Homo sapiens: one gene and its partner. The protein of the gene in region 2 interacts with the protein of the main gene of each other region in a pairwise test. Each region holds a gene or a part of one and is shown on either strand. Other genes may lie near its edges. The genes, in order: MYOZ2 and DRICH1.

Region 1 (3,921 bases), on a different chromosome or scaffold from region 2:
ACGAAAGGCTGTTCTCTCCAGCTAAAGGACCAGGAAAGGAGCTGCCTCTGCAAGACAGAAAATGTTTAGACAATGGCTGCGCTACTTTAGCCAACCACCACAGAAAACACTTTGACTTCGCTCTCACCCACGTTAAGATCTTGTGGGGAGCCCAGAATTTCACCCTGTGAGGCTGTAACAAGTTTCTCCAATACTCCCACTAGGGTGGTGTCAGAGAGACCGAGTGGGAAGTTGGGACTTTCATTCCTTTTGGCCAGTAACTAGCTCCTTGTCTCCGCAGTCTTAGTGAAGACTACGTGGGAGTCTGAACTCCTGTCCTCTCCCAGCAATAACAAAGAGGCTCCCCTCAAGTTTCAGTGGAGCCAAATAGGGAACCCAGACTTCTACATTCACCTGCAGTAATGAGTTGGCACTCCTGCTGGAGCAGTGTCAGATAAGAACAGATGAAAAAGAAGGTTTATTTAAAGAGCAAGCATCTCAGAACATAATGTGAAAATGTCCAGGCTTAAATTGAAAATCACTTATATATATTATGAAAATCACTTATACAAAGAACTAGAAAAATCTCAAACTGAATGAAAAATTAAAAAAAAAATCAAATGCCAACACTGGGATGACTGAGATATTAAAACTATCTGACAAATATTTTAAAGTACCCATAATTTAAAACAATGCTTCAGAAAGCAGTTAGGAAACCACTTGAAACAAATTCTTTAAATGGAAAGGTTTTTTTTTTTTTTGCCAATGACTCCATCAGCAGCAGCAAAAAAAAAAAAAAAAAAAATCTCAGTCGAGAAATAAAAGATATAAAGAACAAAACAAAAATTTTAGAACTCAAAATATAATAACCTGAGTAAAAAGCTCAGTGAATGGGCTCAATAGTAAAATAGAGGGGGCAAATGAGAAAAATCACTTAGCTGTTAGAATAGAATTTCCCCAATAAGACCAACACAGAGAAAAATAGACTTGAAAACAAATGAACGAGGTATTCTTAGGGATTCATGGGACTCTAATAAAAGATATAGCATTCATGTCATTGAAGTTCCAGAAGGAGAGGAAAAATAAGGGGAGGCTGGAAAAGTACTTAAAGAAATCACGGCTGAAAAATGTCCTAAAGTTGACAAGAGATATAAACTTACAGATTCGAGAAGCTAAGAGAACCCTAAACATAATAAACCTGAATAACTCACAACAAGACTTATAATTAAGCTTCTGAAAACTAAAGACAAAGAGAAAATATTGAAAGCCACCAGAGGAAAACAACTTACTTATATAAGGGGAAAATAACTAGAATAATAGTGGATTTCTCATCAGAAACCATGGAGGCCAAAAGGAAGTTGTACCATATTTTTCTAGGTGCTGCAAGAAAAGAATTGTCAACCCAGAATCCCATACCCAGTGAAATATATCCTGCAAGAAATAAAGGGGAACTTGAGACATCCTCAGATGAAGGAAAACTAAGAGAATTTGTTGCCTGAAAGCCTACCCTAAAAGAATGACTAAATGAAGTTTTCTTAAAACAGAAAGGAAACAATAAAAGAAGGAAGCCTGGAACATCAGAGATAAAGAAGGTATATAGTAAGCAGAAATATAGCTATATACAATAGGCTTCCCTTCTCCTCTTGGGCTTTCTAAATTATATTTTATTGTAGAAGCCAAAATTATAATACTGACTGATGTAAATGTATGTAGAAGAAATACTTAAGACAATTATTTTATAAACAGGAGAGGATAAAAAGACATCAAAGTAGATTTTTTTTTTTTTTGAGACAGAGTCTTACTCTGTCACCCAGGCTGGAGTGCAGTGACCCGATCTTGGCTCACTGCAACCTTCGCCTCCCAGGTTCAAGTGATTCTCCTGCCTCAGCCTCCCGAGTAGCTGGGATTACAAGTGCCTGCCACCACCACACCCAGCCAATTTTTGTTTTTTTAGTAGGGACGGGGTTTCTCCACGTTGGCCAGGCTGGTCTCGAACTCCTGACCTCAAGTGATCCGCCCACCTCGGTCTCCCAAAGTGCTGGGATTACAGGCATGAGCCACCGTGCCTGGCCAAAAGTAGATAAATTTTCTATACTTGCACTGGTAAAATGACAACATCAGTAGACTGTGATAAGTTATGCATATATAATGCAATACTTAGAGCAACTCCTGAAAGCTATATGAACAGATACATTTGAAAACACTATACCAAAATGAAACTCTGAAGTAATCTCCAGGAAGGCAGAAAAAAAAAACAGGAATGTAAAACAGAGATGACAAATAGAAAACTAAAAATAAAATTACATACTTAAGCTCTAAGACATTAATAAATTAAATGTAAATAATCTAAATACATCAATTGATGTCAGATTGGATTAAAGGTGAACCAACTATGGTTTGTTGGACGATGCTGCCTACATGAAACTCACTGCCTATGATAACATTATAAGCAAGTGAAAGTAACAGATTGGAAAAATATATATCAAGCAACATCAACCAAATATTACCTGATATTAATATCAGATAAAATCACAGCAACAAAGATTACCAGAAACAGAGGAGGGCATTATATAATGATTAAAGTGCGAATCCACAAAGATTGCCTAGAAATCCCAAATGTACATGCACCAAAAACAGAGCTATAAAATATTTAAAGTAAAAAAGTAGAACTAAAAGGAGAAATAGACAAATCTACAATTATAGTTGGAAACTTCAATCCCCCCATCTCAGCAGATGATAGAACAACTAGGCAGAAGAGCAGTAAGAATATAAAATTCTACAATATTAGCAACGAATAGGACTTAATTGACATTTATATTTTATTCAACAACAATAGAACACACATTTCTTTCAAGTGCCAGTGGAATATATATCAAGATAGACCATATCCTGGGCTATAAAATAAACCTCAACAAATTAAAATGGTTAAATTATTCAGATTGTTAGCGCTGATCACAATAAAACCGAACTAGAAATTAGTAACAGAATGATAACAGGAAAATCTCCAAACACTTGGAAACTAATCAACATACTTCTAAATAGTTCATGGGACAAAAAGGAAGTCTCAAAGGAAATTAAAAATTCAGTGAACTAAACGAATTTGAAAATACAGCATATCAAAATTTATGGGAAACAGTCAACACAGTGCTGAGAGGAATATTTATAGCACTAAATGCACAGTTAAAAAAGAAAAAAGTATCAAATCAATAAATAAGTGTCTACCCCAAAAAATCTAAAAAAAAAAGATGAACAAAATAAACTCAAAGCAAGCAGAACGAAAGAAATAGTAAAGATAAGAGCAGAAACCAGTGAAATAAAAAACAGAAAAACAACAGAGAAAATCAATGAAGTATGGAGCTGGTTTTTAAAAGATCAGTAAAATTGATAAATCTCTAGTAAGATTAACATGGAAAATATAGAGAAGACACAAATTAACAATATTAGGAACAAAATCAGAGATATCATTACAGACACTGCAGATAGCAAACAGATAATAAGAATATTAATACTACAAACAATTCTACATATAAATTCACATAAACTTGAGCACTTAGAAAAAATTGACCAGTTCCTCAAAAAGCACAAATTACCTCAGTTCACCCAACATGAAATGAGTACTTGATTAATTATATAACTATTCAGGCAATTCAATTTATAGTCTAAAAATCTCCTCACCCCACAAAAGGCTTCAGACTTAAATCATTTCACTGGAGAATTCTACCAAATATTTAAAGAACAATTATCACCAATGTCACATAATCTCTGCCCCAAAATAGAAGAGAGTTCTTCCTAGTTCATTTCATTAAGGTAATAATACACTGATACCAAAGCCAGAGAAAGACAACACACACAGACAGGCCAGGTGGGATGGCTCACGCCTGTAATCCTAGCAGTTTGGGAGGCCTGAGGCAGGTGTATTGCTTGAGCTCAAGAGTTCAAGAC
Region 2 (3,921 bases):
ATTCTCCTGCCTCAGCCTCCCAAGTAGCTGGGACTACAAGCGCCCACCACCACACCCAGCTAATGTTTTGTATTTTTAGTAGAGACGGGGTTTCACTGTGTGAGCCAGGATGGTCTCGATTTCCTGACCTCGTAATCCGCCCACCTTGCACCTGCTTATTAACTACAGCCATATGTAGCAGAATGACATTTTGGTCAATGACAGAACACATGTATGACAGTGGTCCCATAAGATTATAACAAAGCTGAAAATTTCCTTTTCCCCAGTAAAGTCGTACCTGTTAGAAGGTCGGCGCAGTGCATTACTTACGTGTCTGTGGTGAGGCGGGTGTAAACAAACCTACTGCGCTGCGTCATTACAGTAAAACAACACTTCTTTTTGGAGAACATTTTAAGTAATATGTTATACAAATGACAGACTAACCACAGTGATGGAATTTTTAGAAAGAGATAAAACTAAGAGTCCGTGAGGATTTGGAGAAACGGCTACTCACATATGCTGTTAGAGGAGCATGAATTGGTGTCATCATTTTGGAAAAAGTTTGGCATTATTTATAACAATGAAAGATATGCCCCCTTCTAACAGTCTACTCCACAAAAGTGAGTGCTGGTGTTATTCCAAAACCACTGACAAAAATACTCAAAGCACCATTACTTGAGATAGCCACAATTACATTAAAAATAACCCTGGCCAGGCATGGTGATACATGCCTATAATCCAAGCACTTTGGGAGGCTGAGGCGGGCAGATCGCCTGAGCTGAGGAGTTCCTGACTAGCCTGGCCAACATGGTGAAACCCTGTCTCCACCAAAAATACAAAAAATTAGCCAGGCATGGTGGTGGACACCTGTAGTCCCCACTACTCGGGAGGCTGAGGCACGAGAATGGCGTGAACCCGGGAGGCGGAGCTTGCAGTGAGCCGAGATCGCACCACTGCACTCCAGCCTGGGTGACAGAGCGAGACTCCATCTCAAAAAAAAAAAAAAAGAAAAAAAAAAGTCTAGAACTTAAGTGATGAATAGCAACTTAGAGAACAAAACCAAAGCCAAATTTTTGAAGACAGGAAATAGTGTGATACTATCTTTTGTGGGAAGGAACTTTTGGCTTCCCAAAAAATTAGAGAACTGGGAGAAAGAAGCCACATCTCAGAATCTGTGATTGGGTTGGGCAGTGGAGGCTGGAAAAGTGCTCAAGGTCAAACTTTTCTCCTCCCCTCAAAGGAGACTGGAGTTTTACCAGTGACCCCAGAGTGAATATTCACTCCACCATCCACTCCGGGAGATCCCTTTAAACCAGGAGTGCACAGTGAGGACAGAAACATGAATGTGCACTAACAAGTCCTGAAAGTTCAGAGGGTGATTCTCGATTTCCCCTTGGCACACAGCACAAGGACTGTTTCTCTAGGTTCCAGGAAATGCCTGTGAGAGAGTTGTGTCCCCCAGATTCCCTTCATCACAGATGACACCCAGTGCTTAGGCCTATACCCCTTGTGCCCACTCCCAAGGAGTGTTGACTAATCCAAACCAAAGGCTATGATGTTCCACAGGGCACAAAAGAGCAGGTGCACTGCAAAGATAATCTCTCATGAACGCAGCACCCTCATAGCCCATAGAGACAGTTCTTACCATGATGCCAAGAAACTCTGAAAACAACAAGCCAGACCTCACACATATTTCCATTTTCTTTCTGATTTCATACCCCCTCCTTCAGCCCCTCCTCACAAGCAACAGGGATAACCTGGAGGCTCCTGGGAACCTTTTCCCATTGGGTTTTTGCTGGCACGTAGTTCCCTACCTGGATGAATCTCTTCATCACTTAGACTCTCCAGCGTCAAGTCTTTAGAAACAAAAACACCAGAATAAGTCATTAGAGAGAGTGACTCACCCACTCCTCCTACTTTACTTTAGCTGAAGCTGAGTGATGAGCTAGTCTCCCACTCCATGCTGCTTCATACATGATCCCCTAATCTTTCTTCTGGGTCGACAAACCTTCCTACAGCTTCTCAGGCCAGAGTTCTATACTGGCAGAATCACTTTCACGAGAACCCCAAGCCTCTTTCCCAGCAGGACCCCAGAATCAGGTTTCTATACACTGAAGCTAGCAAGTTTTTTCCCTCAGGAAGTGAGTTATCTCATGGTACATACCACTTTCTATCCGAGCTGTTATCTGCAATTATATAAAAGAAAACATTATGAAAATCAGATTCTGCTGTGCGCTTCACACAGATCTGTTATTCTCTGGACAACGATAAAAAACCAGAAGGCAGTATAGTGATTGAGCCATAGGTCAAAGTCCCCCAAAGACTAGCACAGAGGATAGCTATAGAAAAACAAGACCTCTATTTGTAGAATTTACCTTTAATTTTATATGCAAATGCACAATGCTTAATTCAAGGTGGAAAACTGTTGTTGTGGAAAATGCCTCAGTATTCCAGTTGATAATGGATGCTGTCATTTAAAAGCACCCTAGTGGACCACATATAAGTTGGGAAGACACTCCTATGGAATTCCAGCCCCACAAAGAGAATAGTGTACAGTGTACATAATGTGCATTGCCAGATTTTCATATCAAAATTAATTGAGAAATAAAGGAATCAGGAAAGCAACATTGCTGTAGAAGACAAAAAAAGGGAGGTCTTACGTGGATGTCATCATCATCTTCTTCTTCTTCATCTTTGTGTCTCAGTGAGCATCTTAAAAACAGGCTATCTTCAGAACAAGCTGGAAGGACACAGAGGAAAGATCAGTGCACCGGTGGTTGGTGACTCTGAGTCACTCGGGGAGCTTTGCTGGATGTGGTGTATGGAGGTGGTTGATTAACAAGCATGGACTGAGTTGATGCTGGGCTATTCCCCTGAGTGGAAGAGGGATGGCAAAGAAGGGAAGCATGAAAGACATGAGACATGGAGGCCTTGGCCTTGTACTAGAGGCATCAGGAAGCAACACAAAACAATCACCCCCAAATGTAAGTAAAATGCACACTAAGGGTCAGTGGAAGAGTGCCTTCCTCCCTCTCAAATGTTTTGAAACTCTTCAAAACCAACAGGATTTTCTTAACGTATTCAAGACTGTGTCAGTACACTAGGATCTAATTATGCTGATACTACATTTAGCATCTCTTTTAAAGGATTTATTACTTATTTAAAATCATATTTTATTTTGAAATGGACTCAATTTTACCCAAATTATTCTATTAATGACACTTTCTTTTTCATAGAGATCATTTTAAAAATTCAATATTAAAATGCTACAATTAAAAATAGTCATGATTTCCTCTTTGTAAGTCTTCTTCTGGAACAACTTCTACACACACTTTTGGACAGCAGCTCCTGTGTCACTCTCCCTGAGGAGATTCCCTAAAAATCAGGCTTCATTCAAACAGGCCAAGCCCACAGAGCCTGCTCTAACTATACCAGTGAAGCTGAGAGACGTGACTCTGAACACTTTCTGCCATGAGGATAAGTTTCCAGGTTCAAATATACATTATCTACTGAACTGGGGAAATGTATACCAATACAAATGAACAAATTCATGAAAAAAAGTCCATGAGTATGGGGGTGATTTTTGGTTAGCTATCTTATATAAAAATTATTTTTTTGGTTGAGCACTCTGGCTCAGACCTGTAATCCCAGCAGTTTGGGAGGCTGAGGTGGGTGGATGACCTGAGGTCAGCAGTTCATGACCAGCCTGGCCAACATGGTAAAACCCCGTCTCTACTAAAAATACAAAAAAATTAGCCAGGCATGGCGGTGAGTGCCTGTAATTCCAGCTACTCAGGAGGCTGAGGCAGGAGAATCACTTGAATCTTGGAGGCAGAGGTTGCAGTGAGCCGCGATCACGCCATTGCACTCCAGCCTGGGCAAGAACAGTGAAACTCCATCTCAAAATATACATATATATTTATTTGATACCTATTCATTCAG

Evidence for each region.
Region 1: the proteins of DRICH1 (region 2) and MYOZ2 interact in binary tests that used the Homo sapiens proteins (3 or more experiments, as listed by UniProt).

The regions. Positions count from the first base shown.
Region 1 is NC_000004.12:119,145,589-119,149,509, reverse strand, and holds part of MYOZ2 (myozenin-2), read right to left. Parts: intron 3,260-3,921; exon of another isoform or gene 1-3,259.
Region 2 is NC_000022.11:23,611,496-23,615,416, forward strand, and holds part of DRICH1 (aspartate-rich protein 1), read right to left. Parts: intron 2,720-3,921; coding exon 2,640-2,719; intron 2,237-2,639; coding exon of another isoform or gene 2,198-2,236; exon of another isoform or gene 2,166-2,197; coding exon 2,144-2,165; intron 1,836-2,143; coding exon 1,794-1,835; intron 1-1,793.